Regions from separate parts of the Homo sapiens genome. Here region 1 is linked to region 2. Evidence: fine-mapped expression QTL. A gene starts in region 2. The other region holds a variant in brackets. All regions are shown on one strand. Distances are from middle to middle.

Region 1 (2,803 bases), 43 kb before region 2:
GCACCAAGACCCCATCTCTACAAAAAAAAAATTTGTTTAAATTAGCTGGGTATGGTAGCACGCACCTGTAGTCCCCAGGAGGGTACTCAGGAGGCTGAGGCAGGAGGGTCACTTGGAGATCACTTGAGCCGGGAGGTCAAGGCTGTTGTAAGCTAAGATCACATCAATGCACTCCAGCCTGGGCAACAGTGAGACCCTGTCTCAAAAAAAAAAAAAAAATATTCCCAAGTTCTTGCTTCTTTTGAACAACTGGCGTGTCAAGCAACTCCAGGCCCCCTTTACCCCAGGGCCACACTGGCTGGAGCCAACCAGCAGCTGGCCTGTTGAGAGGGGTAATCTCTGGTCCACCAGAGGCCCACTAGGCCCATAACACATTCTCTCCACAGTAGCCTGGCAGCTACCTGTCTTTAAAGCCAAGTGCCATCCTCTCTTCCCTTCTCCACAGATGAGGAGTCTGTGGTCAGAGGGAGATGTATTTTTCACAGATCACGCAACACACAGGAAGACACAGCGAGGGTTTTTAGATTCCGAGACCAGGGTGAAAAATCTGCTCTGATCCAACAAAGCACCCCCACTGTGCTTGGCAGCCGATCAGCCACTGTGGGACGATGACCCAAGAGTCCCGGACCTCACCCTGATGCCCCCATCTGGAGACTCTCGGGACACAGCAGGTGTGGCGTCTGGGATGTACTTTATTGGACAAGTGGTGGCCCAAGTCTTGGTCTGGAAGCACTGGGGCCCTGGACCCAGGCACTGAGTTTGAGGAGGCCCAGAGTTCAGGGCTGTTTGGAGCGAGGCCACAAGCGGCTGGTGAGGGAGCCAAGGAAGAGGTTCTGCTTGTTGGACTTGGAGAGCTCGGCCAGGCGCTGCTGCTCCTCCTGGGGTAGGGGGACAGTTGGAGGAGAGGGTCAGCGCAAGGTGGACAGAGCCTCCTCCCAGATGCCCAGGTCCCCAGGCCTCAGCCCAGGGACCACCTTTCCTTCTGACTTCTGCCAAGTCCAGACCCCTTTCCCCAAACCCTGGGGCCCCCAGCCCAGACACAAGGGACCCTAGACCCCAGTCCCCCCACCCCAGACACTAGGAAGAGCCAGCTCTGAGC[C/T]GCAGGAGCCTAGGCTTCAATGTTTGGGGGACGACAGACTCCAATACTAGGCACTCGAGGTATTCAGGCCTGAACTGCAGTAGGTTCTCAGGCCCCAGACTGTCATAATCTCCTTCCCCAGATCCCAGGGACCCCTCCCCTGAGCCTGAGATCCTATCGCAGACCCTGTTACCCCAAGGTGAATGCTGGTGAGATCCCAGGTCCAAACCCCATGGCCCTCCTCACCAGACTGCATCATCCTGCCCCTGGGCCCTCTGAGCCCCATGACCCCTCTCTGGATGCAGGGGTGGGGGGTTCCCTGGGGGGTCCCCAGGCCCAAATCTCTAGGGACTTCTCTGGGCACTCAGGGGCTCCCAACTCTAGGAACCTAACCTAGAATCTGGTGAACCTCAGCCTAGACCCCTGGGAATCTTACCCAGACGCAATCCATACTCTCAGTCCCACTTCCAAATTACCAGGGTCCCACCAAGACTATCACATCTCTCCCCACAGCCTTGGGCCACGTGCCCAGGGAGCCTCTTTCCAGGCCTGATCTAAAACCCACAATCCACCTCCACAAGGTGCCCCCAGACCTACTCAAGACCATCAAGGGCAACCCCTCTCCCAGCCTAATCTCAAATCCTCTCCTGTTTCCTGTTCTCAGAGCAGGCTGCAGAATCAATGCATCCCCTCATTCTGGCAGCCCTACAGGACAGGCTGTGTTATATCCCCCTGGTTACAGAGACTGAGGCAGAGAGGAGGTATCTGCTCAGGGTCACACAGCCAAACCAAGAGTGTGGAGATGGACTGCCCCAGGCTCCTCCTTCAGGAGCCTCAGAGCCGATCCTCCACTCTGGGCATCTGAGCACCAACCTGCTCTAGCCGGCTTTGCCGCTGTTTGAAAGCCGCCAGCGGGTCATCCTCCAGGGCATAGTGCTCCAGCACGGTTCGCACGTCCTCCACACCATTCAGTGCAATGGCTGTGGGCACAACAGGGGGTGGTCAGCCAGGCTTCTAAAGGCCAGAGGGAGGCAGGGCCCATGAGGGGAACGTCCCGCACTGGGGCACGGGGGCAGTCAGTGCTACCTGGAATGCTTCTGAACGCTCTGAAAGGGCTCCCCTGAACATCCCCAAGTATCCCCCAAACATTCCATGAACATCCTAAGAAGCTCCTAAAGACTCCAAGGTGCTCAGGCACCTCTTGCACCTCAGTCGCCCAGCCATGAATCATGCATTTATCCTTCCTCTTCAGAGTCAGGGGCTCTGGGGTCAGAGGCCAAGGGATCAGGGGTCAGCCTTACTCTTGAGGAAGGCAGACAGATCCAACAAGACCCGGTCATCAGAGTTGCCGTCCCAGGGCCGCAGGGCAACGCCGTTATAGGGCTGCAGGCGGAAGGCTTCCTTCTTGCAGTCCACAACTACTACTCGAGCTGGGTCCCGATTCAGACATGAAATATCCTGGAAGTGAGTGACAGATCAGGTCAACATCTGTGCCCAACTCTCCCCCCATCAAGAAGACCCAAAACACACAAAACATACATACATACACAGCATCACACATACTGGGATCACAATGGCAGGGCCTCTCAAAGACCGGCTTTGGATGATGGCATCGACCCCCACAGAGGGCCAGGCATGGTGGCTCACGCCTGTAATCCCAGCACTTTGGGAGGCCGAGGCGGGCGGATCACCTGAGGTCAGGAGTTCAAGACCAGCCTGGCTAAA
Region 2 (2,803 bases):
TGCAGTGCAGTGGCACCATCACAGCTCACTAGACCTTCACCTTCTGGCTCAAGCAATCTTCCCACCTCAGCCTCCCAAGTAGCTGGGACTACAGAAGCGTGCCACCAAGCTCAGCTAATATTTTTATAAGACGGAGTCTTGCTCGTCGCCCAGGCTGCAGTGCAGTGGCGCGATCTCAGCTCACCACAGTCTCCACCTCCCTGGTTCAAGCGATTCTCAGCTTCAGCCTCCCGAGTAGCTGGGATTACAGGTGGGCGCCACCATGCCAAGCTAATTTTTTTGTATTTTTAGTAGAAATGGTGTTTCACCATGTTGACCAGGCTGGTCTTGAACTCCTGACCTCAGGTGATCCACTGTCTTGGCCTCCCACAGTGCTGAGATTACAGGTGTGAGCCACCAAGCCCGGCCTCAGCCAATGGTTTTTATATTTTTGTAGAGACAGGGTCCCGTTGTGTTACCGAGATTGCTCTCAAACTTCTGGGCTCAAGTGATCCTCCCAGCTTGGCCTCTCAAATCCTCGTTAATCCCTGAACACGGCGGACACACTCCCATCTCTGCACCTGCTGGTCCCCCTCACTGGAACACTACACTTCCAGCTAACCACGACTCACTCCCTCACCTCCAACAAGTTTTTGCTCAAATGTCACCCCTCAGACTCATGCTGATGACCCTATTTCAAGAGCAACCAGGACTCTCCATTCCCCTTTTCTGTTCTTTTCTCCAGAGTACCTTCCAGCTTACTATATAGTTTATTCCTTGGCTATATTTATTTACATTCCCGAAGGCAGACATTTTTAAAATCTTTTTGTTTACTGGTGTACCCTAAGAGCAAAGAATTGCGCCTGGTACATAGTAGGCACTACAAATATAGTTATGGAATGACTAGACATAACTAAAAAAAAAAACTAATGCTAAGTGCTTACTATATGCACACAGAGTAAACTTTCAAAACATCACCTGTTATCTCACTGGACCTGACCCATTTCTGGCCTCCAGAACCTGTCCCTTTGCTTGACTTCGACTTGCCTAATTCTCTATCTCTTGAGACAATCTGGGAGTTCCCAGAAGCCAGAGCCCGCTGTGAACCCCTCGAGCCTCCCACAGGGGCCTTTCTGCCCGGAGTCCTGTCCCCAGACGCAATGTCTCCCCCAGCGCCCCAGCCACAGACCTCGGCCTCCTCGCCGTCACTGCTGCGCTCGCTGTCCTCCTCCTCGGAAAAGTTGCTGTCCTCGCTGTCCGACATCTTCCGCTGCTGCTGGGAAAGACAGCAGCCTTGGCGCGTCCCACAATCCTGCGCTCCACCCCGAGCCTCAGTTTCCCCGCTGGTTCCCTGGGAGAAGAAAACCCCTTAGGGCGCTTCCGGCAGGCTCGTTTTGGCAATCGCGAAGCGGAGTGAGGACCCCCTCCTACGCCACATGCTAGACCTCCCCAGTTTCCGAATCTGTTCTCTACACCTCCCCGGCGCCCGGAACTGCCACCTCTGCACACGCACTTACCTCTCGGGCTCCACCTCCGCCTTCGGTACCAGCTGCTGTTCGCACGACGCCTGACTGGGGCTGACGGGTCCTCTCGCGAGAACCTACCCGTTGACCTCGCCTAACACGAGATTTCCGGGGCTGGCACGGGCGACGCACTTCCAGGTCGCCATCTTGAGAGAGGCAGGGCTGGCCTGGGCGGAGTGCGGGGCCGACATCTGCGGAGGGTTAGGAGGGGAAAGGTTTTTTCTACCCGCCGGCTCGGCGACCAGGCTGAAACTCATGTTTGAATTTAGTGAGCCGTTTGTTCGTTAGTCCGGAACACTAGCGCGGTAGGCCAAGCTGCGAGGAGGCGGCGAAATCAGCGAATAGCAAATTATAAAAGAAACAAGGCTTTATCTCCTAGGCCCTCTAAAGCATCCCCAGGAGATCCGTATCCCCGTTTTGGAGAGAACGCTGAAGCTCAGAAAAACTCAGTGGAAAGCGGCAGACCCAAGCCTCCTCGCCAAGTCTGAGTGACCGTGAAGCCCTGGTTTTTCCTTCTTTTTCTTTCTTTTTGTACTTTTTTTTTTTTTTTGGTAGAGTCGGGCTGTTGCCCGGCCTGGTCTCAAACTCCTCTAACTCAAACTAAAAAGCCATCCTCCGGCCTCGTCCTGCCAAAGTGCTGAGATCACAGGCATAACCTGCCGCGCCCGGCCCAAGTCCCTATTTTTCTTTCCAGGCTTCCTAAGTTCATTTAAAGGCGAATTTATCTATTAGTAATGACGGCTGACGAGTGATGGCAGAGTGGACAGGTGTAATGGAGAGATGAAAAATGAACCTTCGCCTGTAATCCCAGCGCTTTGGGAGGCTGAGGCGGGAGGATCACCTGAGGCCAGGTATTTGAGACTAGCATGGGCAACAAATTGAGACCCCATGTATCCAATTTTTGTGTTTTTTTTAATGTGGTGTGGTGGCGTGTGCCTGTGGTCCCTGCTACTCCAAAGGCTAAGGTGGGAGGATCACTTGAACCCATGTTGAGGCTTCAGTGAGCTATGATTGCACCACTGCACTCCAGACTGGGTAATAGAGACCCTGTCTCTAAAAAAAAAAAAAAAAAAAAATTAAAACTTAAATTTTTAAAAATTGAAAAATTAACCTGATAGGGGAAATTTTAAAAATCAGAAGTCTATGTCAGTCGCGGTGGCTCATGCCTGTAATCCCAACACATTGGGAGGCCGGGGCGGGCAGATTGCCTGAGGTCAGGAGTTCGAAACCAGTCTGGCCAACATGGTGAAACCCCGTCTCTACTAAAAATACAAAAAAATTAGCCGGGCGTGGTGGCATGT

What was found. PIP is the estimated chance that this variant, and not a neighbour inherited with it, causes the effect. A credible set is the group of variants that fine-mapping cannot tell apart.
Region 1: its variant is the best candidate, but not a certain one, in a credible set for the expression of SUPT5H in fibroblasts (GTEx, PIP 0.89).

The regions. Positions count from the first base shown.
Region 1 is chr19:39,487,794-39,490,596 of GRCh38, reverse strand. It overlaps TIMM50 (translocase of inner mitochondrial membrane 50), which reads right to left. Exons shown (of 11, transcript NM_001001563.5): 9 at 2,380-2,536; 10 at 1,952-2,058; 11 at 1-878. The coding sequence ends at 777. Among named protein-coding and RNA genes, the nearest start is that of TIMM50, 8.4 kb to the right of the region's middle. The variant C/T (reference allele first, on the strand shown) is at 1,100.
Region 2 is chr19:39,444,331-39,447,133 of GRCh38, reverse strand. It overlaps SUPT5H (SPT5 homolog, DSIF elongation factor subunit), which reads right to left and starts at 1,552. Exons shown (of 30, transcript NM_001111020.3): 1 at 1,497-1,552; 2 at 1,169-1,330. The coding sequence starts at 1,243. RefSeq lists enhancers at 1,123-1,342, 715-1,511, 1,483-1,752, 1,512-2,309.